Regions from separate parts of the Homo sapiens genome. Here regions 1 and 2 are each linked to region 3. The links come from fine-mapping of genetic effects on gene expression. A gene starts in region 3. Each other region holds a variant in brackets. All regions are shown on one strand. Distances are from middle to middle. Region 1 overlaps PPP6R2 (protein phosphatase 6 regulatory subunit 2). Region 2 overlaps PPP6R2 (protein phosphatase 6 regulatory subunit 2). Region 3 holds the start of SBF1 (SET binding factor 1).

Region 1 (10,197 bases), 130 kb before region 3:
CAGTTCCCCCCCAGTCAGTGCCCCCCCAGTCAGTTTCCCCCCAGTCAGTGCCCCCCAGTCAGTGCCCCCTCCAGTCAATTCCCCCCAGTCAGTGCCCCCTCCAGTCAATTCCCCCCAGTCAGTGCCTCCTCCAGTCAGTTTCCCCCAGTCAGTGCCCCCTCCAGTCAGTTCCCCCCAGTCAGTGCCCCCCCAGTCAGTTTCCCCCCAGTCAGTGCCCCCCAGTCAGTGCCCCCTCCAGTCAATTCCCCCTAGTCAGTGCCCCCTCCAGTCAGTTCCCCCCCAGTCAGTGCCTCCTCCAGTCAGTTTCCCCCAGTCAGTGCCTCCTCCAGTCAGTTTCCCCCAGTCAGTGCCCCCTCCAGTCAGTTCCCCCCCCAGTCAGTGCCCCCTCTAGTCAGTTCCCCCCCAGTCAGTGCCCCCTCTAGTCAGTTCCCCCCCAGTCAGTGCCCCCTCTAGTCAGTTCCCCCCCAGTCAGTGCCCCCTCTAGTCAGTTCCCCCCCAGTCAGTGCCCCCTCTAGTCAGTTTCCCCCCAGTCAGTGCCTCCTCCAGTCAGTTTCCCCCAGTCAGTGCCTCCTCCAGTCAGTTTCCCCCAGTCAGTGCCTCCTCCAGTCAGTTTCCCCCAGTCAGTGCCCCCTCCAGTCAGTTCCCCCCAGTCAGTGCCCCCCCAGTCAGTTTCCCCCCAGTCAGTGCCCCCCAGTCAGTGCCCCCTCCAGTCAATTCCCCCCAGTCAGTGCCCCCTCCAGTCAGTTCCCCCCCAAGTCAGTGCCCCCTCCAGTCAGTTCCCCCAGTCAGTGCCCCCTCCAGTCAGTTCCCCCCCAGTCAGTGCCTCCTCCAGTCAGTTTCCCCCAGTCAGTGCCCCCTCCAGTCAGTTCCCCCCCCAGTCAGTGCCCCCTCCAGTCAGTTCCCCCCCCCAGTCAGTACACCCTCTAGTCAGTTCCCCCAGTCAGTGCCCCCTCCAGTCAGTTCCCCCCAGTCAGTTTCCCCCCAGTCAGTTTCCCTCCAGTCAGTGCCCCCCAGTCAGTGCCCCCTCCAGTCAGTGCCCCCTCCAGTCAGTTTCCCCCCAGTCAGTGCCCCCTCCAGTCAGTTCCCCCCAGTCAGTTTTCCCCCAGTCAGTTTCCCTCCAGTCAGTGCCCCCCAGTCAGTGCCCCCTCCAGTCAGTGCCCCCTCCAGTCAGTTTCCCCCCAGTCAGTGCCCCCTCCAGTCAGTTCCCCCCCAGTCAGTTTCCCCCCAGTCAGTTTCCCTCCAGTCAGTGCCCCCTCCAGTCAGTTCCCCCCATCAGTGCCCCCCTAGTCAGTGCCCCCTCCAGTCAGTTCCCCCCCCCCGGTCAGTTCCCCCCCCCAGTCAGTGCCCCCTCCAGTCAGTTTCCCCCCAGTCAGTGCCCCCCAAGTCAGTGCCCCCTCCAGTCAGTTCCCCCCCAGTCAGTGCCCCCCTCCAGTCAGTTCCCCCCAGTCAGTGCATCCTCTAGTCAGTTCCCCCCAGTCAGTGAACCCTCCAGTCAGTGACCCACCCAGTCAGTGCCCCCTCCAGTCAGTTCCCCCCCAGTCAGTGCCCCCCTCCAGTCAGTTCCCCCCAGTCAGTGCATCCTCTAGTCAGTTCCCCCCAGTCAGTGAACCCTCCAGTCAGTGACCCACCCAGTCAGTGCCCCCTCCAGTCAGTTCCCCCAGTCAGTTGCCCCCCAGTCAGTGCCCCCCAAGTCAGTCAGTTCCCCCTCCAGTCAGTTCCCCCAGTCAGTCAGTGCCCCCCAGTCAGTGCCCCCCCCAAGTCAGTCACTGTCCCCTCCAGTCAGTGCCCCTCCAGTAAGTTCTCCCCAGTCAGTGCATCCCCTAGTCAGTTCCCCCCAGTCAGTGCCCCCTTCAGTGTCCCCCAGTCAGTTCCCCTCAGTCAGTGCCCCCCCAGTCAGTTCCCCCCGCAATCAGTTCCCCCGTCAGTGCCCCCTCCAGTCAGTGCCCCCCAAATCAGTGCCCCCAGTCAGTGCCCACTCCAGTCAGTTCCCCTCCAGTAAGTGCCCCCCAAGTCAGTTTCCTCCCAAGTCAGGGCCCCCTCCAGTCAGTTCCCTCCCAGTCAGTCAGTGCCCCCCCAGTCAGTGCCCTCCTTCTGTTCCCCCACCCTACACCAGTCAGTGCTTCCTGCACCAGTCAGTGTCCCCTGCTAGCTAGTCATTGCACCTCACCCATCAGTCCCCACCCCACCCATCAGTGCCCCCCACCGTCAGTCAGTGCCCCTTGCAAGTCATGCTCCTCCTGTCGGTCAGTGCCTCCGCATCTGTCAGTCCGCGCACTGGTCAGTGCCTCCACTGTTGGTCAGTGCTCCCCCACCGTCAGTCCACTCTGCTCCCCATCAGTGTCCCCCAGTCAGAGTCCCGCATCCCTGTCCCCCGTCAGCCAGTGCCCCCCCAGTCAATTATTTTCTTTCTGTCATGTCCCCACTTCCCATCAGTGCCTGCACCCCCACCCGTACCCGTCAGTCACTGACCGCATAATCCCTCCCCTGCCAGTGCCCTTCCTTGTCAGTCCAAGCGCTCTGTGACCCCTTCTGTCAGCAATGTCCCCACCTGTCATTGATCTTCTCTGTCAGTGCCCCCCATCAGTGCCAGTGCCTCTGTCAGTGAGCCCCACTGTCAGTAAGTTTCCCTCATAAGTGTCTCCCTCATCCTGCCTGTTGTGGCCCTTCCGCTCTTTGCTATCGGCCTCTGTGTTAGTGCCTGTCAGATCCTCCCCATCAGTTCTCCCCTGTTGTCAGTTCCTGTCCCCTTTCATGCTACCTCCTTCATCCCTTATCTGTTAGGGACCCATTAGTACCCTGCCCTGCTGTTAGTGACCCCACCTGTCAGTGTCTCCCCACTGCTTCTCTCCTGCCTGTCAGTGGGAGAACTTTCAGTGCCCGCTGTCATCACCCCTCTTGTCCAATCACTGATTCCCCTTTCCATTATTTCCTAACCCTTTCCAACACTACTCGTCTTTTCCTGTCGCGCTCCCCATCACGGCTTGAGATATCACCAGTCATCTAACCTCACCTTACCCCGCACTGCCCTGTTGCTTCCATCCCCATCATCTCTTCCTTCAGCCTGTCACCTTCCCCCATGCACCGTACTGTCCCCCGACCTGCCACTCTGTGTACTCGCAGCTTCCCTACCTGCTTTGTCCACTCTCTTGTTACTGACTCCTCCCAATTTGCTGCTCATTCCCTGACCTGTCAGCACCAGCTCCCCCAAGTCTGTCACTTCCATTTAGTCCCTGCCTTTCACTGCAGCCCCCTCTTTGTCACTGTACCCACTGATTTTGTTCTAGACCCTTCTCCTGTGTCTTGTTCTTTCATCCACCCTTCCCTCATGGCCTCTCTCTGCCCTGCTCTTGGCTTCTCCTTGCCCCTGCAGTTGCCGACACTGTTCACTGTTCACTGAAAGAGGCTCTTCACCTCTTTTTGATGTCCCTTTTTCTGGTTTATCTTCCCTTTGTTTTTATTTTTTACTTTAAAATGTTGTGGGTACACAATAGGTGTATATATCTCTCCCCTTTGACTTTTCTAACTCACTTCAGTTAATCTTTGGAATGTGAGAGGCAGCTAGCTTTGAGACAAATTGGGGGACAGAGTCTCCCATGCTGAGAGGACAGCACATGCAAAGGCCCTGAAGTGGGAAATTTTGGGTGTGATATCCTCCAGGAACCTAGATAAGACTGATGTGCTTATGGTAAGGGAGAGAGAGGCAGGAGCCTGGGCTGGAAAGTTGGTTTTCTCATTAAGCCGTTCCTTGCAGGTGTTAGTAGGGAGTTGGACCTTCAGTCTGAGTTGTAGGAGAAACCTGGCCTGGAGATTGAGTTGGAGAGTGCCATGATCATATGGACATTGGCACGTGGACAGCAGGTGGGGGTGAGATGAAGTGTTGGGAGCTGGGTGTAGTGATTGTAATGGTTTAGAACTTGGTGGTGGGTTTAGGGAGATATTTTGGAGGTAGAGCTGTTGGGACTTGTTGGTAGATGAGAAGAGAGGTGTGAGAGAATGAATGGACTCAGGGTAATTTCTGGGCTGCTTTTATCCTCCCAGCCCCATCAACCCTTCTAGGCTTTCTGATGGAACAAATGGGTGGATAGTAGCACTGTTTATTGAAATAGGGAAGCTGAATTAGGGTGGTGTCAGGGCTGGGGGTGTTACTACAGTTTGGAAGTAGAAAGCAAGGCTTTCTCTTGGCTGAAAGTAGGGGAAGTCTGAGAAGTCCGAGGGTCACTAGGGAGAAGGTATCTTACAGGAGGGTCTGGAACCCAGAGGAGAGGCCAAGCCGCAGGTATACAACTGTCATCATGGGGGCAAGGTATAAAGCCTTGGGGATGGCTATTTATTTAAAAGCACATGGGCTGGGTGCGGTGGTTCACGCCTGTAATCCCAGCACTTTGGGAGGCTGAGGTGGGAGCATCACTTAAGGCCAGGGCAGCCTGGGGACATGACAAAACCCTATCTCTACAAAAACAAAAAGCAGGGCCGGGCGCAGTGGCTCACGCCTGTAATCCCAGCACTTTGGGATGCTGAGGCGGGCGGATCACCTGAGGTCAGGAGTTCGAGACCAGCTTGGCCAACATAGTGAAACTCCATCTCTACTGAAAATACAAAAAAAACTAGCCAGGCATGGTGGTGGGCGCCTGTAATCCCAGCTACTCAGGAGGCTGGGGCAGGAGAATCGCTTGAACCTGGGAGGTGGAGGTTGCAGTGTGCCGAGATTGTGCCATTGCACTCTAGCCTGGGCGACAAGAGTGAGACTTCCTCTCAAAAAAAAAAAAAAAAAAAAAAGTTGGGCATGGTGGTGTGCGCCTATAGTCCCAGCTGCTCGGACACTGAGGTGGCAGGATCACCTGAGCCTGGGGAGGTCAAGGCTGCAGTGAGCTGTGATCACTCCATTGCACTCCAGCCTGGGCGACAGCGTGAGACCCTGTCTCAAAAAAAAAAAAAAAAAAAAACGGGCTGGACGTGGTGACTCGTGCCTATAATCCCAGCACTTTGGGAGGCTGAGGCGGGAGGATCACTTGAGGCCAGGAGTTCTAGACCAGCCTGAGCAACATAGTGAGGCCCCATCTCTGCCAAAAATAAATAAAAGCACACCCACAAAAGCAGAATGTGGCCAGGCATAGTGGCTCATGCCTGTAATCCCAGCAGTTTGGGAGGCTGAGGCAGGTGGATCACCTGAGGTCAGGAATTCGAGACCAGCCTGGCCAACATGGTGAAACCCCGTCTTTACTAAAAATACAAAAAATTAGCCAGGCGTGGTGGCATGCGCCTGTAATCCCAGCTGAGGCAGGAGAATTGCTTGAACCCGGGA[A/G]GCGGAGGTTGCAGTGAGCCAAGATCACAACATTGCATTCCATTCTGGGCAACAAGAGTGAAACTCCATCTTAAAAAAAAAAAAAACAGAAAAAAGCAGCTGGGTGTGGTGGCCCACGCCTGTAATCAGTTTGGGAGGCCGAGGCGGGTGGATCACCTGAGGTCAGGAGTTCGAGACCAGCCTGAACAACATGGTGAAACTCCGTCTCTACTAAAAATACAAAAATTAGCCAGGCGTGGTGGTGCATGCTTGTAATCCCAGCTATTCGGGAGCCTGAGGCAGGAGAATGCCTTGAACCCAGGTGGTGGAGGTTGCACTGAGCCAAGATTGTGCCACTGCACTCCAGCCTAGGCAACAGAGCAAGACTCTGTCTCAAAAAGAAAAAAAAAGAAACCATTTTATTTGCTCATTCATTAAAAGCAGCTCCTTATCTGTTTTATCCTGAGATTGCAGCAATTCAGTCACATCTTCAGGCTCTACTTCTAGTTCTGTTACTTATTTTTTGAGACGAAGTTTCCCTCTTGTTGCCCTGGCTGGAGTGCAGTGGTGCAATCTTGGCTCACTGCAACCTCTGCCTCCCGAGTTCAAGCGATTCTCCTGCCTCAGCCTCCTGAGTAGCGGGGATTACAGGCGCCCACCACCATGCCTGGCTAATTTTTGCATTTTCTATAAAGATGGGATTTCACCATGTTGGCCAGGCTGGTCTCGAACTCCTGACTTCAGGTGATCTGCCTGCCTTGGCCTCCCAAAGTTGCTGGGATTACAGGCATGAACCACTGCGACCGGCCTGAAATGTATTTCTGAAATAATAAGAAAATTAGGCTGGGCGCGGTGGCTCACGCCTGTAATCCCAGCACTTTGGGAGGCCGAGACAGGCAGATCACGAGGTCAGGAGATCGAGACCATCCTGGCTAACACGGTGAAACCCCGTCTCTACTAAAAATTCAAAAAATTAGCCGGGTGTGGTGGTGGGCGCCTGTAGTCTCAGCTACTTGGGAGGCTGAGGCAAGAGAATGGCATGAACCCAGGAGGCGCAACTTGCAGTGAGCCGAGATTGCCCCACTGCACTCCAGCCTGGGCGACAGAGCAAGACTCCGTCTCAAAAAAAAAAAAAAAATTACTCCTTGATCCATGGGCTGCAGTATGGAGTATGTTAGCAGGCATGACAACATTAGTCTCCTTGTACATCTTAATCAGAGCTCTTGGGTGACTAGATGCATGGTCAATGAGCAGTAATATTTTGAAAGGAATCTTTTTTTTCTGAGCAGTAGGTCTCAACAGTGTTTTTTTTTTTTTTTTTTTTTTTTTTTTTTTGAGACAGAGTTTCACTCTTGTTGCCCAGGCTGGAGTGCAATGGCGCAATCTTGGCTCACCGCAACCTAAGCCTCCCAGGTTCAAGTGATTCTCCTGCCTCAGCCTCCCTAGTGGCTGGGATTACAGGCATGTGCCATTGCGCCCAGCTAATTTTGTATTTTTAGTAGAGATGGTGTTTCACCATGTTGGCCAGGCTGGTCTCAAACTCCTGACCTCAAGTGATCCGCCCGCCTTGGCCTCCCAAAGTGCTGGGATTACAGGAGTGAGCCACCGCGCTCGGCCTGATTTAGCATAATTCTTAAGGGTCCTAGGATTTTCAGAATGATAAATGAGCATTCAATTTAAAAGTCACCAGCTGCATTAGCGAGTCAGCCTGTGCACTCAAGCTTTGAAGCCAGGCGTTGACTTACCCTGTCTAGCTATGAAAATCCTAGATGGCACCTTCTTCCAATAGAAGACTGTTTCATCTGTATTGAAAAATCTGTTGTTTGCCATAGCCTCCTTCATCAATTGTCCTAGCTGGATCTTCCAGATCTAGCGACAACTTCTATATCAGCATTTGCTGTTTTGTTTTTGTTTTTTGTTTTTTGTTTTGAAATGGAGTCTCCCTCTGTCACCCAGGCTGGAGTGCAGTGGTGCCATCTCAGCTCACCGCAACCTCTGGTTCCCGTGTTCAAGTGATTCTCCTGCCTCAGCCTCTTGAGTAGCTGGGATTACAGGTAGCCGCCGCCATACCCAGCTAATTTTTTTTTTTGAAACGGAGTCTTGCTCTGTCACCCAGTCTGGAGTGCAGTGGCGCGATCTCGGCTCACTGCAAGCTCTGCCTCCCAGGTTCATGCCATTCTCCTGCCTCAGCCTCCCCAGCAGCTGGGACTACAGGTGCACACCACCATGCCCAGCTAATTTTTTTGTATTTTTTAGTAGAGACGGGGTTTCATCGTGTTAGCCAGGATGGTCTCCATCTCCTGACCTCATGATCCGCCTGCCTCGGCCTCCCAAAGTGCTGGGATTACAGGCGTGAGCCACCGCACCCGGCCACACCCAGCTAATTTTTGTATTTTTTAGTAGAGACGGGGTTTCACCATGTTGGCCAGGCTGGTCTTGAACTCCTGACCTCAAGTGATCCTTCCGCCTCGGCCTCCCAAAGTGCTGGGATTACAGGCAAGAGCCATCGCGCCCGGCCGGCATTTGCTGTTTCACCTTGCACTTTAGTATGTTATGGAGGTGGCTTCTTAAACCTCATGAAACAACCTCCGCTAGCTTCCAGTTTTTCTTCTGCAGCTTCGTCATCTCTGTCATCCTTTGTAGAACTGAAAAGAGTGAGGGCCTTACTGTAGACTATTTAAGTCTGGTTTCGTCTTCTCTCCAAACCATTAAAACTTTCTGCAGGCATTGGGTGCGGTGTCTGACCCCTGTAATCCCAGCACTTTGTGAGGCTGAGGCAGGTGGATCACGAGGTCAGGAGGAGACCATCCTGGCCAACATGGTGAAACCCCATCTCTACTAAAAATACAAAAATTTGCTGGGTATGGTGGTGCGTGCCTGTAGTCCCAGCTACTCGGGAGGCTGAAGCACAAGAATTGCTTGAACCAAGGAGGTGGAAGTTGCAGTGAGCCAAGATCACGCCACTGCACTCCAGCCTGGTGACAGAGCGAGACTCTGTCTCAAAACAAAAACAAAAACAAAAAAAAAAAACACACAAAACAACAACAACGTAACTTTCTGCAGGCTAGGCACGGTTGCGCACACCTCTAATCCCAGCACTTTGGGAGGCTGAGTGGGGAGGATCGCTTGAGCTCGGGAGTTTGAGACCAACCTGAGTAATACAGTGAAACCTCATCGCTACAAAATAAAAGTTTAGCTGAATGTGGTGGTGCATGCCTATAGTCCCAGCTACTGGGGAGGCTGAGGTAGGAGGATGGCTTGAATCTGGGACGTCAGAGCTGCAGTGAGCTGTGATGGTGCCACTACATTCCAGCCTGGGCAACAGAGTAAGACCTGCCTCCAAACAGAAAGCAGCCTTCTCCGTGTCAGCAATAAAGCTGCTTTGCTTTATTATTATTTATGTCTTCACTGGAGTAGCAGTTTTAATTTCCCTCAAGAACCTTTCTTTGGCATTCACAACTTGGCAAACTGGTGCAGGAGGGCTAGCTTTTGGCCTGTCGGCTTTTGACATGCCTTCTTCACTAAGCTTAAGCATTTCTAGCTTTTGATCGAAATGAGAGACATGTGACTCTTCCTTTCCTACAGGATTAATTGACCTAACGTTATTACGTTATTACTGTTGTGTCTCAGGGAGTAGGGAGCCCTGAGGAGAGGGGGAGAGACTCAGGGAAATGGCCGGTCAGAACTTACGCAGCGTTTATTAAGTTTGCTATCCTATATGGGCACGGTTTGTAGTTTCCCAAAACAATTAAAATAGTAACATCAAACATCACCGATAACAGGTCACCATAACAGATAAAATAATAATGAAAGAGTTTGAAATATTGTGAGAATTACCAGAATGCAACACAGAGACACGAAGTAAGCACATGCTGTTGGAAAAATGGCACCCCTCGACGTGCTTGACGCAAGGTTGCTACCAGCCTTTAATTTGTAGAAAGCACATTACCTGCGAAGCACAATGAAGGGAAGCACGTTAGACAAAGTACGCCTGTGTTGTTTTCCATTTCACAGATGAGGAAATGGAAATAAACAGCAAGTAGATGATAGAGGCAAGATTTGTACCCCAGGTAGTGTGACTCAAAAGCCTCTCCCTTTTTTTTTTTTTTTGTTAAGGGAAAGGCTAACTTTTAAAAATATTTTTAAAAAATTTTAATAGATTCCCTAGAAGAATAGAGGAAGAACAAAGAAAATTAAAAGAATACATTTTGGAATTGTAACGATAACTGATTATGTATCAGGCATTTGTGTGTTCTTGTTTATGTTCCAATACAATTTTATTTAGAAAAGCTGACTGGGAGGCCGGGCGCGGTGGCTCATGCCTGTAATCTCAGCACTTTTGGAGGCCGAGGTGGGCGGATCACCTGGGGTCCGGAGTTTGAGACCACCGTGGCCAACATGGTGAAACCCTGTCTCTACTAAAAATACAAAAATTAGCCGGGCATGGTGGCACGTGGCTGTAATTCCAGCTACTCAGGAGGCTGAGGCAGGAGAATCACTTGAACCCAGAAGGTGGAGATTGTAGTGAGCCAAGATCATGCCACTGCACTCCAGCCTGGGCGACGGAGCGAGACTTTGTCTCAAAATAAATAAATAATAAATAAAATAAAATGCCTGGGACTAGAGATGTTTTGGATTTCAAATTTTCTCAGAGTTACCAGTTGAGCTTCCCCAATAAGGAATCTGAAATGCTCCAGTGAGCATGTCCTTTGAGCATCATGTAGATGCTCAACAAGTTTTGGATTGGAGTGCTTTTTTTATTTTTATTTTTTGGCTAGTCAAGTGAAGCACTGGGAGTGGAAAAGGAACACAAACATTTGTAGGTGGGCACGGCGCCTCACACCTGTAATCCCAGCACTTTGGGAGGCTGAGGTGGGTGGATCACCTGAGGTCCGGAGTTTGAGACCAGGCTGGCC
Region 2 (5,842 bases), 28 kb before region 3:
AGTTGAAACCAGTTGGACGGCCCAGCTTGCGTCTCTTCTGCCTGAGTGGGCCTCTCAGGTCACTCGTGCCCTGCTGGAGGACAGAGGGGCACCTCAGCCGCCCCCAAGCCCAGAGCACAGCAATAAGGTCGGCCTGCAGGAGCCGGGGTGGGGGTGGGGGTGGGGGGGGCAGGACCCTGAGATGCCACCAGGACCTGATGGGCCAGGAAGGGCGTGGACATGGAGGCTGTTTTTACAGTTTTTTTTTTGTTGTTGTTTTGTTTTTAAAGAATACAGAAGGAGCCAAGCTTTTTTGCACTTTGTATCCAGCTGCAAGCTCAGGGCAGAGTCAAGGGCCTGGGTTGGAAAAACCTGACTCACAGGAATGCATAATTGACCCTTGCAGCTACCCAATAGCCCTTGGAGCTGGCACTGAACCAGGCTGCAAGATTTGACTGCCTTAAAAACACAAGGCCCTCTAGGCCTGGCAGGGATGTCCCTGTGCCCAGCACAGGGTGCCTGGCAGGGGGAGACCACAGGTATGCAGGTGGGGGGACATGGTGTGGCACTAGGGGCTCGAAGACTGGTTTCTAGCACTACCGGTCACGGCCATGTCGTCCTAGAAGGGTCCAGAAGATTATTTTACGTTGAGTCCATTTTTAATGTTCTGATCACCTGACAGGGCACCCCAAACCCCCAACTCCCAATAAAAGCCGTGACGTTCGGACAAACCGCGTACTGTGAACCTTCCGGCCCCAAAGCCCCGGCCCGGCCAGGGGTGGGAGAGTCTCCTCCAGCACCTCTTTTGTGGGCCCGCCACCCCCCAGCGTTATCCCCGTGTAATGGGTGGAGGCGGAACAGGCCACATCACGGCATCAGGTCTCTACAGCTTAGCAAATACTGACATTTTTCCGTTTGGGGGATGGGGGGAACCACTTCGCCTAACGCTCAAACACATCAACCCCAGGACTTCCTTTTGTGCCAGCTCCCCCTCCCAGAAGCCTGGGCCCCACCTTGTCCTCAGTGGCTGAGTGGGAGGGGCAGGTGGAGACCAGACCCCCACCCCGCCCCAGCGAGCTTGTCTTTCCACCACGGTTGGGGGTGGAGGGAACCCGCTCAGCTCCCCAGAGGCCGAGTCTCTGCCCCAGCTACACATTGAGTGCCTTGTTCTCGCCGCCTACCCTGTGCCTGGCATTTGTCCTCTCCCCCCACAGACGTGGAACAGGGAGGGCAGGGTCCTTTCTCCCCTTACTCTGACCTGTGGGTTTTCCAGGTGCCAGGAACTTCGGTCAGGCGCCATCTGTCCGGCCTGAGGGAAGACCTGGCTGGTTTCAGTGGCTCAAGTGAGCCCACCCTCACATCTCGCCCAGGTGTCCCAACACCACCTGTGGGGTGGGGGAGGTGGCGGGACCATGCTGGGCCTGACAGGGTCCAAGGCCATCCTTGGCTTCAACGTCCCACCAGGGGAGGGTCTTGGCCCCCCACCTGCCAGCACTGGGCCCTGCCTCTGCAGCTGTCATCAGAACCTTCCCCTCACCCACACCTGCTGCTCGCCTCCCACCTGAGAGGACCACCTGAGGGACCCAGCCTCTAGCCAGGTTCTCTGCCCCTCACCAGCCCCTCTGGCCAGGTCACCAGCTGCCACTCTCAGATGTTCTCTTGGCCTTTGCAGCGTCTATAACCCTCCCCACCTTCTGCTCCTGCACCCCTGGCCAGGCCTCGTCACAGGCAAGGACACAACAGCTCAGCAGGTGAAGCCCTGGGCCTGGTGGGACTCAGGTTTGAATAGGAAAAGAGCAGTGAGGGGCCACAGTGACACCAAGAAGGGAAGGACGGGGGCCCTCTGAGACCCCAGGGAAAGGACTTTTGGGGCAGAATTCCCAAGAACTGAGAGGGTCCATCCCCCATGGGCGTTGGCCCCTTACTCTGCCAGATGCTGCTCGTTGCCTGGCAGGAGCCAGATGTGGTCAACCTGCATTCCCCTGGGAGCCCACTGTCCCCCCCCCCCCCCCGCCTCCGGCCTCCATCCCTTCAGCTCGGGTCTAGCCAGAAACTGACGTCCACCTCAAGTGTCCTCTGGACCTGCAACAGCCTTCTGGGGTCAAATGACCACCCACCCTTTCACCCCCAAGCCTCTGTGAGGTCAGCTTCTGCATCCCCTGGGTAGGGATGGGGGCTTCCTCTCCAGCCGTGCCGGCCCCTAGACCAGCCCTGAGGCGTGGAGGGAATCAAGCAAGTCCCCAGTGAAGCCTCCTGCTCGATCCGCCCCCAGAGCAAAGTCACTCCCAGGGACATGCAGGCCGAGCTGGGTGGACCCAGGCACCAGGAGAGGCTCACGAGAAAGATGCCAACCTCCCGCCAGGTGGGCCTGGATAGGGGCAGATGGGACCCTCTGGGTAGGCCGAGAGCAGGCAGCCGGGGAGTGGGGAAGGCAGGCACAGGAGCGTGGCGTTAG[TTC/T]TCTCTTTATATAGACTCTGGTTCTAGAAACTCGCCTGCAGCCGCTGGCTGGACCAGCACACGCTGACGGGGCCGGACTATTTACAGGCCCATTGCGGGCTGTACCTTGGCCACCTCCCGGCACGGTGCTCAGCTGTGACGCCAAAATAAGTTAGGGCCGGCCGGGCGGGGCGGGGCGGGGACGGGGGCTGTACACACAAGTGCTGGGGGCTCGGGGCCTCAATACTGTCGAGGGCCGGGGCTGTAAACATGGCCGGGGCGGCCCTGCCCACCCCTAGTGGTCGGTAACGACCGGAAGCAGAGCAGCCGGGCAGGGCTGGGAGGCTCAGGCGTCCGACAGGCAGCTCTGGATCCGGTCCACCCACTGCTGGGCCGAGGGCACGTCCTGGGCACAGAAGTTGTAAACGCGACGCGTTGTCTTCACCTGGGGAAGGGCGGGTTACTGACTCCGCAGCCCCCACACCGCAGAGCCCCTCCCCTCTCCCAAGCCCCGGCCAAGGCTCACGTCAAAGAAGGCCTTCTCGTCCACAGTCTTAGGGGCACCCATAGTGGGCGTGCCAGGTGCCACAGCCTCCACCTCCGCCAAGTCGATGACACCCTTGCACTCTGTGTCCACACGGTGGTCGTAGTAGCGCAGCTGGAGGAGGCCACAGAGTCAGCGGAGCCCCCTCCCCCGTGAGTCCCCCCCACCACCTGATCACTCACCTGGTGCTTGGTCTTGTCCAGCACGAACCAGCGGGCCTTCCAAGGCTTCATGAAGGCCCCCTTCTTGTACAGAGTGCCCTCGTAGGACCTGCATTTCCAGCAGAACCAGGGCCAGGCTGACCGTCATGGCCCAGCCAAGCCCAGGCCCCAGCAGTCGTCCCCCCCTTGCTGTCCCAGCCCAGGAGGTAAGACCAGGCACCCTGTCCCCAGAACTGACCTAAGCCCAGAGCACTGGCCAGGGGGCCACAAAGAAGCCTTTGATGGGGGGCTGCAGGCCCAAGAAGACGACGCCCAGAAAGGAGACAGTGAAGGGCGCCTCACACCCTCCAGACTCCAGGGAGCATCCCCACACCAGAGCCTCAGGGTCTTGGGAAAGCAGCCCCCTACACAGGGCAGGCGCCCTTACGAGGAGAGGGATGGCCAGGCAGGTAGATCTGTAGAAGCAGCCACGGCAGCAGCTGCCTGGGATGGATCCTGCCAGACTCCAGACTCACGGGGGCCCCACCACTGCCCTCTCTCTACTCCTCCCTCAGCCACTGCAGGCTGTGGTCAGCTGTGGTCACCAGTTCGACACCCCAAACCCCTCCCAGTGGTGGTGTATACTTAAGCAAGCTCCTCAAAAGCACCCGCAATCTCCCACCAGAGGACTGCCTGGGACCCCAGAACACCAGCTCAGAGGTGTCCATGTGGCAGTGGGAGGTGCCCTCATACCTGTTCTCACTCTCTGCTGTCTGGAACTGGCTGTACAGGGTGCTGGTGCTGCGGCGGGCAGCCTGACGGGAGCCGGATGTGGTTGAGCCACTACTCTGGTCGCTGTCCAGGCTGAGGCTCAGGGTGGAGCCCACGGGCCCCTCCTGCAGGTACACACCCAGCGAGCGACGGTGGTGGGGTGCGGTGGACACAAGGAGGGAGCTAGGGGTGCCCTGGGAACAGGAGGTTGGGACTTGGGTCAGGGCTGGACAGACTCCACTTTCTCCCAGCAACACGCCCACCGTGGACGCTCACACTGGCCCTCACTCACACGGCCGTCTGGCCGGCCCTCGAGGCGCTGTGCAGCCTTCACCCGGTCCCAGGTGTCCTTCCAGCGCTCAGCGGGTTGGCCCAACTCTGTCTCCAGCCTCTGCAGCTCCTGGGGGAAGAATTAATGGCAAGTTTATTCAAAAGGAAATATCCAGACTAGAGCACGAAAAGACAAAAGGAAAACACAGGAAAGAGACACAACGGAAAGGCCTAACGCGTGTGTGACTGGCCACAGGGGGAGGTGGCAAGAGGGAGGGAAGGAATATGCAAAATGAATATTCGGAGACAACAGTTGAAAAATTTCCCAAACTAACCAGAGGCATCAAACAACATAATCAAGAAGCACTACAGACCCCAACAGGGTAAGTTAAAAACACACACCCCGGCCAGGCGTGGTGGCTCACGCCTGTAATCCCAGCACTTTGGGAGGCCGATCACCTGAGGTCAGGAGTTTGAGACCAGCCTGACAAACATGGAGAAACCGCATCTCTACTAAAAATACAAAAAGTTAGCCCAGCATGGTGGCGCACGCCTGTAGGAGAATCGCTTGAACCTGGGAGGCGGAGGTTGCGGTGAGCCGAGAACGCGCCACTGCACACCAGCATGGGCAACAAGAGCAAAACTGCTTCTCAAAAAAAAAAAAGACCACACAATACTGATCTTCAACACTGCAGGGTCCACAATGTCCAGCTTACAATAAAAGAACAGCAGAAAAATGGAGAAAAACATTAAAATAGACCCTGAAATGAAACAGGAGTTAGAACATACAGTAAATTCAAGAGAGTGATTTTAGGGCCAGGCGCGGTGGCTCACGCCTGTAATCCCAGCACTTTGGGTGGCCGAGGCGGGTGGATCACGAGGTCAGGAGTTCAAGACCAGCCTGGCCAAGATGGTGAAACCCCAACTCTACTAAAAATACAAAAATTAGCCGGACGCAGTGGCAGGCACCAGTAATCCCAACTACTCAGGAAGCTGAGGCAGGAGAATCACTTAAACTCAGGGGGCGGAAGTTGCAGTGAGCCGAGATCACACCACTGCCCTCCAGCCTGGGCGGCAAAGTGAGATTCTGTCTCAAAACACACAAACACACACACACACACACACACACACACACACCCCAAAATGGGACAGAAAAACTGCTGAAAAACAAAGAGAAAAGTCCCAAAACCTGCCAGAAGAAAAAAAGACATGCTCTCTTTGAAAGAGCAACAATAAAACTGACGGCTGACTTCAAAAGAGAAACACGAGGCCAACTGTCAACTTCCAGCCATGACAGATAATTAGTCTGAACAGCCCTCCCTCCATATGCAAATGATGAAACTGGACAAGAAGGGGAAGCCGTTGTTTCCAGATGTCAGACAAGCAGTGCAGCTTGAGAGACAGGAGCCTAAGACATGGGACCACATAAGATGGGCCCCACAGTCACCTGTTTTCTGCCCAGCCACAGTGCAGGGAGGCAGGGCCAGAGCAACACACGGGAGCTTGCTGAGCCGAGGAGGCAGAGACGGGACGTCCAGGGGCGCTAGTGCAGCTGGGTCTGCAGGGCAGCCCACAGAGGGGAGGGAGCACCACAGCAAAGGGGCTCTAGAAATCTAGACAGAGCCCTCCTTGAGTCGTTGGCCAAATTAGGCTGCCATGTGCAAAGCAAGATGTCACAAGGCCTGGCAGAGAACAGCTACTA
Region 3 (10,197 bases):
AGTGCACCTGTTGGCTTGGCTGGGACGGACCACAGGCTAATTAGGGCTTGTAGAACACGTACAGTCGGCTACACAACCATCCTCCCCACACCCAACAAGCAAACAGGTTCCTCAGTCGGAAGTACAGGGCACCTTCCGGAGCCCCAGGGAATGACAGAACACAGCTGGCCCCTGGAAAGGCAGGCCATGGAGGGCCCTGCAGCCCTCAGCTGTGAGCAGCTCTCCTCCTCACCCTTCTGAGGTCCCAGCCTGCACCTCAGCTCTGTGCTGTCCGGGGCCAGGCCACATCTTGGCCTCCAGGGGGATGTGGGGGGTTTTGCCACATCTTCCCAGGGTCCCCCACCCACTGAAGCTCTATTGCCATAGGAGTGACCTCCAGCAGCTGAGCTCCTTGCCCATCAGAGTGCTGCCTTTACCTCAGAATACACAGGAGGGAGGGTGCCCTCCCCACTCCTCCCCTTGGCAACAGGACGAATCCAAACGGTGTGCTGGGTGGCACTGGGCACCAAGGTTTCCTTGCCACCTCCACCTCTGAACATGGGGCTGAGGGGGCCACCTAAGGACAACACTGGGGCTTCTGTCCTGAAAGCCCCTCAAAGAGCACTCCCTCCTGCACCAATGTCCCTGCGGCCAGCCCCACGCAGACGGCAGGCCTGAAAGGCGGGCGGGCGGGCAGGCGAACACAGACCTCGCGTTCTGTCATCTGCTGGCAGCACCCCATCATCAGTGCCAGGCTCTGACGCCTGGAGGGCTGGCCCAGGCCAGCGTGTGCTGTGGGGAGGCAAAGAAGGATGGCAGCCTCTCCTGTTTCCCCACCACACTCCCCACAGTGCACGAAGACCAGCCCTGGCCGGCTCTGCTGCTTGTGGGGAACCCAGCTATAGGAAAAGAGAAAAGAAGGAAGGACAGCACCTTCCTGCTACGCCACCCACCCAACCCCAACGTGCACATGGCTCCCTCGGCCGCAGCAGCAGGCCATGCGCAGGGCCCCTGCAGCTTCCACAGCCATCCCCCCCAACCTCCCCTGCCCATCAGACCTGAGCAGTTCTGACCCAAGGCCTTGGACCCCTTCCGGCTCCCAGGGTGGAGGCTGGGAGGCAGTTGAGGCCATCCCAAACAGCCCCAACCCGCTCCAGAGGGAGGGCAGGAACGTGGGTGGGGACAGTAGATGGGGCTCAAGAATGCAGCCAGCACATCACAGTCAGGAGGAGAGGCGAGGCCATAGGGTGAAAGGTCTTTTTCTCAGATCCAAGGGGTCCAGCCCCTCCTCCCAGGCAGATGCACACTCAGCTGCTGGAGATGGAAGGCCGATGGCCAGGTCAGGGCCAGATCAAATGTGTCTCCTGTTCTCAAAGACACCTCAGCACTGGCCACGCTGTGATCAGGCCAAGAGCCGGGCAGAGGCAGTCTGTCTAGTCCTGATGCCTGCCCCAGAGCACAGAAGGTGATCCCTGACTCACCAGGTGAGGGGCCTGCAGATGGGCCAGCGCTGGCCACCATCACTCTCTGAGGTGAAAGGGTCACGGCCAGCACAGGCATTTACCTTCTCAGGGCCCCTCCCCACCTTTCCTGAGAGGTTTCCAGCTGGTAACCACTAGCAACTGGGATGCTGCCTCAGGCAGGACTCATGCACCCTCAGCACCCTGGTGCTGCACCCAGCAGCTCCAGACAGGATGTCCAGATCCAGGCCAAGACAAGCTATCCGCCAATCCTAATCCCCAACCCAAGAGACCCTGCATCCCGCCCTGAAGTCCTAGCCTGACAGAACAGAGAGGATCCTCTACCCACTCAGAAGTGCCTGTTGTGTCTGTGCCTAGAGAGTTCACACACCTGCTGCTCAGTCACTAATGAAAGAAACTCATCATTTCCAGGGCCTCCTGTGTGCTACTGCTTCACACCTGTGCATTCGCTGCATCCTCACGGCAGCCTGGGAGGTTAGCATGACTCACTCCATCCCCAGATGAGGAAACTGAGGCACAGAGAGCCAAACAACTGGCTCGAAGTCACAAGGCTATCAAGGGGCAAAGCAGAGACAAGTGACCCCCACGCCACACTCCTCTGCTTCTTCCCCCAGCTCCCACCGGCCCTGGTACCTGGCTCTGCCCTCAGCCCATGACCAGGGTCCCAGTCTATAGCCTTGTTCCCCTCAAGAATGAACAAGTCCTTCTAAGGGGTGCCTGGGGCTGCAAGGCCAGCAAGCAGCTGACCAGCTCAACCCCAGAAGGTAGTGGGTACAGGGCTCCACGGTCCTCCAACCCTACTGCAGTGGACCACTTATCACTCCTTCCGGTCACTTAGGGGAAGGGGGGGCACCTTGGGCTCCAGCCTTCTACCCTGTCCTGCGCAAAGGACACACACAAACAGGTGCCTGCACTACGTGTGGCTCCAGCAGTGAGCACACACGTCACAGCCAGCTTGTTGTGGAGCCCACTCTGCCTCTTCTCTCTGCCTACCTTCAACTCCTCACCCCACGGCCACCACGCCTCCCACCTGGCCTTTGCCTGCAGTCTCTACCAACCCAAACCCTCTCCACACTGCCCTCAGGATCATCAGGGTCATTATCAGCTGTTCCTGTAGCCCCCGCCCCAGCCCTCAGCCCAAGGCCCCTCACGCCAAGACAGCCCTCAGCCAGCCTTGCTTCCCTGGATCCTCAGGCACCCTCTGCCCCAGGTGGTAAGGCCTCCTCCATGCCCCTCATAGGTGCCTCGGTGCAGACAGCTCCCTCTGTGGGTCAAGACAACATTGACAGCCAACCTGCACAGTGGGGATGAGGACTATGTGGTCCTAGCAAGCGAGAACTCCCTCTCTAAAGAAAAAGACAGATGCTCATGACTGACGGTGCCATAAGACACACACTTGGATAGACATGAGCAGAGAGGAGTGTGTGCTGAGTAAGAGGGCACTGAGGAGGGGCTGGAGACGAAGAAGATGCTAAAGAGGCTTCAGGAAGTGTAGGGGGGTGTCCAGCAGAAGAAACACAAAAAAGAGAGAACTCCAGGTCCTTGGTGGGGACAGTGACAACTGGACTGACAAAAAACAGGGTAACTGGGAAGGCAAGCTCAATCCCACCTCCAGGCTCAAGATCCAGCCCCTGCCTGACCACACAGCCATCCCCACACACTGCCAGTCTGCAGCTGGGATCTGACAGCCTGAGTGCCAGTCCCAGCCTCTCTGAGCCGGCTCAGGCCAGGCAGTCAGCTTATCCGCGCCTAACTTCTCTACAGATGGGGGCAACACCAGGGCAACCCCGGTGGGCTGCTGGGAGGAAGAGGTGAGATCATGTACACAAAGGGCTGTGCGGGGCCTGGCACACCAAGCACGCTCGCCAACGCTGCTGTCTCCAGGCTGTTGCTGATGTCATCGTCAGGCTCCGTTTTCTCCTACCTCCTGGGCTGAAGAGCTCTCAGACACGGGCGCTGACCCCACACACAGACCTCCTGGGCATGGGCACCGACCGCCACGCTGATACCCCACCCAGGGCTTGGCGTGCAGGGCCTGGACCGTCAGGCGAGTCGCCAGGAATGCTCTTCTCTCTACTCTCGACGCTTCCTCCTCAAATCCTCCCAGTTTCAAATCAAACACCGCTTCTCCATGCACCAAACCCGAACTCCACCCCCTCTTTGCACCCCGCCAAGACCGCCGGGGGCTTCAGACGGAGCACCAAGGTCAGAGGCGGGCTGGCGAGCCGCGGGTCCGCGCCCCTGGAGCCACTAGAGCCACAGCCGCCCGCAGCTGGCCAAGGAGAGAGCCCGTCCCACCCCAAGGAGGCCGGGCAGGCCGGGCCCAGCCTTCTCTCCCTGCCGCCACCAGGCCCGCGCGGCCACGCCGCCCCCAGCGGACGCCCATTCTCCCCACGGGCTGTCCGGTCGGCCCTGGCCTTCAGTCCCCGCCCGGCCCCCGGCCCCGGCCCTCAGTCCTCGGCTCCCCCGACCCCGGCCCTCAGCGCCCAGCCCCCGGTCCTCGGCCCTCAGCGCCCGGCCCTCAGTCCTCGGCCTCCCGACCCAGCCCCCAGCCCTCGGCCCCCAGCCCCCGGCCCTCGACCCTCAGACCCAGCCCCTGGCCCTCAGCACTCGACCCTCGGCCCCCGGCCCTCAGCGCTTGGCCTCGGCACTCACCGCGCGGGTGCGGCCCGAACGCCACCAGCACGAAGTAGTCCGCGAGCCGCGCCATGGCGAGGGACGCGGGGCGGCCCGAGGGGCGCGGGCGGGCTCCGCGGCTCGGGGACTCGAGGACGGCGCGCTCATGGCCCGGCCCCGGCCCTGGACCGCGCACCCCGGACACCCCTGGTTCGCTCCGCGGCGGCGGCGGCGGCGGCGGCGGCGGCCCAGGTTCCCGCCGCCATCTTCCCAGCCAGCCGGCCCGCCCGGGCGCGCCGTGCGCCTGCGCGCTGTCGTCAAGCCCTGAGCGGGCGGGGCCTGCAACCGCGCATCTCCATTGGTCCAGAGGGTGGGAGGGCGGCTCCCGAGAGCAGCGCCCCGCCCATCGCTGACCACTCTGGGGCCCGAGCACCGCCCCTCGGGCCGGGCACCTGGACTACGGCTCCGGCGGGTCTGACGCCCTGACCCGGGTCGGCTGTGGTGTCGGCGGGAGGCATGGGCCAGGACCACAGCTGCCCTCGCCGTTGGGACTCCCCGCACAGGAGCCCGAACCCCACCCCTGGGCCGTCCCAATCTGGGGATCGGGTCCCCAGACTCCTCGTCCCCCGCCCCTCTCTGTCCAGCGGGAGAAAGGCGGGAGAAGCCTAGGCGCTGCCTACCGGGCCCCCCAAACTAGAAGTCAGAGGAGGCGCAGGGCCATCACCTCAGGGGCTGCCAGCCTGGCGATGGGGAACAGAGAGAGAATTCAGGCCCTGCCCTTGGGGTCCCAGGCTGAAGAGCCCCCATCTAGGCCAAGTGAGACATTTAACACAGCTTAAAAACGGCACGCTCATGTCCCCCTGTAAAGAGCAAATGTTCTAAGCGTGTGAGGCACATGAGGCCACGGAGCAGGGGGCTCTGGGAAAGCTGCATCCCCCAGGATCCCTGACAGTGCCCACCCCTCTCAAGGGCAGGGCTGGCCAGGGCCACCCCTGAAGTGGCTCAGGGATGAGCATGAGCCCAGAGCAGAACATGCTGGGAGAGAAGGTGCAGGAGCCAGCCTGGTGCAGCAGGGAAACCCCTCTGAGCACAGCAGGCCAAGGTCTGTTTTTTGTTATGTTTTGTTTTGTTTTTGAGGCAGAGTCTCAATCCGTCACCCAGGCTGAAGTGCAGTGACACCATCTTGGCTCACTGGAACGTCCGTCTCCTGGGTTCAAGCAATTCTCCCGCCTCAGCTTCCCGCGTAGCTGGGATTACAGGTGTGCACCACCATGCCCGGCTAATTTTTGTATTTTAGTAGAGAGGGGGTTTCACCATGTTGGCCAGGCTGGTCTTGAACTCCTGACCTCAGGCCATCCACCCACCATGGCGTCCCAAAGTGCTGGGATTACAGGCATGAGCCACCGCCCCCAGCCCGAAGGTCTGTTTTTTGTTTTTTGTTTGTTTTTGTTTGTTTGTTTTGAGACAGAGTCTCGCTCTGTCGCCCAGGCTGGAGTACAGTGGCGTGATCTTGGCTCACTGCAAACTCCGCCTCCCAGGTTCACATCATTCTCCTGCCTCAGCCTCCCGAGTAGCTGGGACTACAAGCACCTGCCACCACGCCCAGCTAATTTTTTGTATTTTTAGTAGCGACAGGGTTTCACTGTGTTAGCCAGGATGGTCTCGATCTCCTGACCTCGTGATCCGCCCATCTCGGCCTCCCAAAGTGCTGGCATTACAGGTGTGAGCCACCGCGCCTGGCCCTGAAGGTCTGTTTTTAAATGAGTTTGGCTGCTGCAAGAACTGGCCAAATGACTGGCATCCAGTCTCCATCCATGGGCAGGAGCCAGCCCAAGAGAATGAATGGAATCAAACTGAGAGGCCCCACCAGGGTCCCCTCCCTGCCCTCAGGCACAGGCCACGCTACGCCTCTCCTCTCCCACTGTTGGTTTTCACAGGTTGAGAAATCATCTTTTTAAAATTTAATTTTTTTGTAGAGACAGGGTCTTGATAAGTTACCTAGGCTTGTCTTGAACTCCTGTCCTCAAATGATCCTCCTGCATCTGCCTCAAAAAGTGTTGGGATTACAGGTGTGAGAAACTGTGCCCTGCCAGAAATCCTCCTTTTTGCCCCAGCTGGCTCAAGTTGGTTTCTGTCACTTGTACCCAAAAAGGTCCTCAGCACCACACTACCACACCACTGAGCTTGTGTGCAGGCTGGCAGGGGCCCGGGGCAAGTCTGGGCTAGTGCTTGAGCCCAGGGCTGGCTCTCTTCGGAGAGACTCTAGGGACCCTGCACCGCACTCTCCACTCTCTCTGAGACTCTGGGGACCCTGCGTCGCACTCTCTCCACTGTCATGCTTCCACCAGGCCCTTGGGAACAACCATCCACAGTGGCTCAGTGTCTCAGATGGATGGATGCCCCTCCCTACCGCCCAGCCTGCTGATTTCTGGTCAGCTGTCTTGCAGTCTGCACTCTCCTCGAACCTCTCACCCCACTTCCAGTGTCTCTGAGATAATTGGCTGCTCCTCAGAGAGCAAATAGAAGCTATCAGATGGGAGCACCAAGCCCCCATCTTACACCTCTCACACCACCCCTCCCTCCATTACCACAGGGCTCTGCCCCCCTGCCCACTCCTCATCTCAGGCCATCATTCACTGTCAGTGCCCGCCGCCAAACTCCATCCTTCCCTGTCTATGGATTCCTTGCTATCAGAGTCAAACTTACCTCTGCCATCATAAAACACTCAAACAAAACCCCCCAAAGGCCGGGCGTGGTGGCTCATGCCTGTAAATCCCAGCACTCTGGGAGGCCCAGGCGGGTGGATCACTTGGCGTCAGGAGTTTGAGACCAACCTGCACAACATGGTGAAACCCCGTCTCTACTAAATATACAAAAAATTAGCCAGGCATGGTGACGCGTGCCTGTAATCCCAGCTACTCGGGAAGCTGAGGCAGGAGAGTTGCTTGAACCCGGGAGGCGGAGGTTGCAGTGAGCCGAGATCACGCCACTGCACTCCAGCCTGGGAGATAGAGCGCAACCCCATCTCAAAAAAAAAAAGGAAAAAACCCCAAGATGCTGTTTGTCCAGCCAGTTGCCACCCTAGCTTCTTTTGCTTCTCACAAGCATTCCCCAAGGCCACCGCCCCCTCCTATGGCCCAGCCCTCGCACATTTGGAAACTTGTGTCTCCCCTTCACCTGTGTCCATCATAAGCGGTGCTGGGGCAGCCCCGTCGCTCCCCAGAAGCAGCTTCTCCAACTAAGAATGGACTCACATGCAACAAGCACCAGGGACCCTGGGAATCACAGACGGGGCCTCCTCTCTGGTGGGCTGGGCAGGTGCAGAAGCAGCAGCCAGGCTGATGCCTGAGGGCAGAGGATACACCCTCCCCACAAGCTGGCGGGAGGCAGGACTGTGGCTCACAGGGGCAGCAACTGTCCTGTCATCTCAGGGCCTGAAACGCAGCCCCTCGCTGGGGCTGTCCTCCACCTGTCCCAGATTAAAAACCTTGTGAGGGCTGGGCACGGTGGCTCACGCCTGTAATCCCAGCACTCTGGGAAGCCAAGGCGGGCGGATCATGAGGTCAGGAGATCGAGACCATCCTGGCTAACACGGTGAAACTCTACTAAAAATACAGAAAAATTAGCCGGGCATGGTGGAGGGCGCTTGTAGTCCCAGCTACTTGGGAGGCTGAGGCAGGAGAATGGCGTGAACCCAGGAGGCGGAGCTTGCAGTGAGTCAAGATCACACCACTGCACTCCAGCCTGGGTGACAGAGCGAGACTCCGTCTCAAAAAAAAAAAAAAAAAAAAAAAAAAAGCCTCTTGAGGACAGGGAATTTTTGCTGGTTTTTCTTTATTGGTGGGGCGAACGATTTGATTGCACTTGTGTTTTGAAAGGACAGAGCTGGTGGCAGTGTGGAAGGCTGAGGGCCGAGTGGGGAGGCAGCAGCAGAAGCCGCAGCAGCAGATTTGGGAACCTGGGGGATCCCCTGCTCAGGCCCTTCCCTACCTGCCCCTCCAGAGCTGGCGCTGGGCTCCATCCTTGGCCAGCCTCTCCGCATTCTCTGTGGATGAGGCTCACCATATCCTCCATGGCTGCGCCATCCCTGAAACCCCAAAACTGTTCTCGACCTGCCTTATCTTTAGTCCCATGCCTGCCAGGCTGGGGAGCGACCAGACCCCTCTCCCTGGACAACCCCCAGGCAGCTCGGCCTCAGCATGTCCAGGCCCCGACCTCTTCCCACCCCCTCAGCAGCTGCCACATCAGCAAACAGAAGGGCTTCGCCGGGAACTGAGCCCCTCATTTCCCGTCCTGCCCCGCTAAATTTCTCCCACCCATCCACTCTGTCCCCTCAAGCCCTTTCTGCCTGCCTCCCCAGCACCTGCCTTCTTGGCTGCCCCTCCACCTTTCAACATAAATGTGACACTTGGCCGGGCTTGGTGGCTCACACCTGTAATCCCAGCAGTTTGGGAGGCAGAGGTGGGCGGATTGCTTGAGGTCCAGACTTCAAGATCAGCCTGGCCAGCATGGTGAAACCCCGTCTCTACTAAAAATACAAAAATTAGCCAGGTGTGGTGGCAGGCGCCTGTAACCCCAGCTACTTGGGAGGCTGAGGCAGGAGAATTACTTGAACCTGGGAGGCGGAGGTCGCAGTGAGCCAAGATTGTGCCACTGCACTCCAGCCTGGGCGACAGAGTGAGACTCCATCTCAAAAAAGCAAACAAACAACAACAACAACAAAACACTGGGTGCAGTGGCTCACACCTGTAATCACAGCACTTTGGGAGGCCAAGGTGGGTGGATCACCTAAGGTCAGGAATTCGAGACCATCCTGGCCAACATGGTGAAACCCTCTCTCAAATACAAAAATTATCTGGGCGTGGTGGTGGGCACTTATAATTCCAGCTACTCAGGAGGCTGAGGCAGGAGAATCGCTTAAACCTGGGAGGCGGAGTTTGCAGTGAGCTGAGATTTCGCCACGGCACTCCAGCCTGGGTGACACAGTGGGACTCCATCTCAAAAAAAAAAAAAACATATAAATGTGACACTCCCTGCCCCCTCAACTGGTCAAAATAAGTAAATAATACCTGCAAGGCATCCCTGCCCTCCCAGATCGGCCTGTGGGGTGTGTGCTCGGCACTCCTCGACTTATTCACCCAGCAAATGTTGACTGTGCTCCCATGGTGTGTCAGCAGGAGGGTTACGGGGTGAGCGCAGGGGTTGGGGAGACAGAAGGGGAAGCACGAACGGACGCAGAGATCCTCAGCTCACCCAACAGAGAGGCCAGTCTCAGCAGCTTGGAACCCGTGACACCAAGTCCAGGACTCGTGGACAGTGGGTAGGCGAAAGCTCTGTGGAGAACAGTGAACCATCTATCAACATAAACACATGCTCACCTTCAACCAGAATTTCTACTTCCAGGAAGGTGTCCTATAGACACATCTGTGAGCTCAAGGCAGCAACTCATGAAAAGACTGGCAGTCACCTAATTTCATATTAATAGCAGATGAGATGAATCATACAACACCTATATGTTGGAGTAGATCCAACCATAGGAAAGAGTGGGGTCTCTGATGTGAGGACGGTCGGGCTGTGACGCCTGTCACCCCACTGGTCACCAGTGTTGATTCGGCTGATGTGGCTGGCTCAGAGGCAGGTGTCCCCCTCCTTCCCCACTGTTCCCTGTGCGTCCCTCCGAAGCTGCACGCTCCATCGAAGAGGATGGAGGACCGGGCTTCGAGTAGCTGCGCTCCTCTGCCAGGACCTCCAAACAAGCTCTCAGGAAAGAACGGGGTCTCAGTCCTACTGCAAATCTGCACACATGGATGTGTGTGCCTCACATAGCCACACCTAGGTGTGCCCAGGGCAAGTCAGGAGAGGGCTCCCCCCCAGACCAGGGTAGGGGTCCCAAGTGGGTGGCAATGGTGAGGGGAGTCTCACGTTTCACTCGTTTTAAATTTTTCTTTTTCTTTTTTTTTTTTCTTTTTTTGAGACGGAGTCTCGCTCTGTCGCCCAAGCTGGAGTGCAATGCCGCGATGTCGGCTCACTGCAACCTCCGCCGCCTGGATTCAAGCCTCAGCCTTTCCTGCCTCAGCCTCCCGAGTAGCTGAGATTACAGGCACCCGCCACCACGCCCGGC

What was found. PIP is the estimated chance that this variant, and not a neighbour inherited with it, causes the effect.
Region 1: its variant is fine-mapped to the expression of SBF1 in whole blood (TOPMed, PIP 0.99).
Region 2: its variant is fine-mapped to the expression of SBF1 in transverse colon (CEDAR, PIP 0.95). The same link has a PIP of 0.9 or more in CD4 T cells.

Annotation. Positions count from the first base shown.
Region 1 is chr22:50,344,442-50,354,638 of GRCh38, forward strand. The region is part of intron 1 of PPP6R2 (protein phosphatase 6 regulatory subunit 2); the gene reads left to right. Among named protein-coding and RNA genes, the nearest start is that of PPP6R2, 6.2 kb to the left of the region's middle. The variant A/G (reference allele first, on the strand shown) is at 5,303.
Region 2 is chr22:50,444,381-50,450,222 of GRCh38, forward strand. PPP6R2 (protein phosphatase 6 regulatory subunit 2) reads left to right here. Exons shown (of 24, transcript NM_001242898.2): 24 at 1-710. It overlaps SBF1 (SET binding factor 1), which reads right to left. Exons shown (of 41, transcript NM_002972.4): 37 at 4,163-4,270; 38 at 3,853-4,064; 39 at 3,142-3,229; 40 at 2,942-3,073; 41 at 620-2,860. The coding sequence ends at 2,762. Among named protein-coding and RNA genes, the nearest start is that of SBF1, 28 kb to the right of the region's middle. RefSeq lists an enhancer at 221-1,067. The variant TTC/T (reference allele first, on the strand shown) is at 2,435.
Region 3 is chr22:50,470,671-50,480,867 of GRCh38, forward strand. SBF1 (SET binding factor 1) reads right to left here and starts at 4,365. Exons shown (of 41, transcript NM_002972.4): 1 at 4,116-4,365. The coding sequence starts at 4,170. RefSeq lists enhancers at 68-127, 1,886-2,797, 2,798-3,707, 4,618-5,527 and silencers at 3,727-3,856, 4,277-4,736, 4,317-4,521.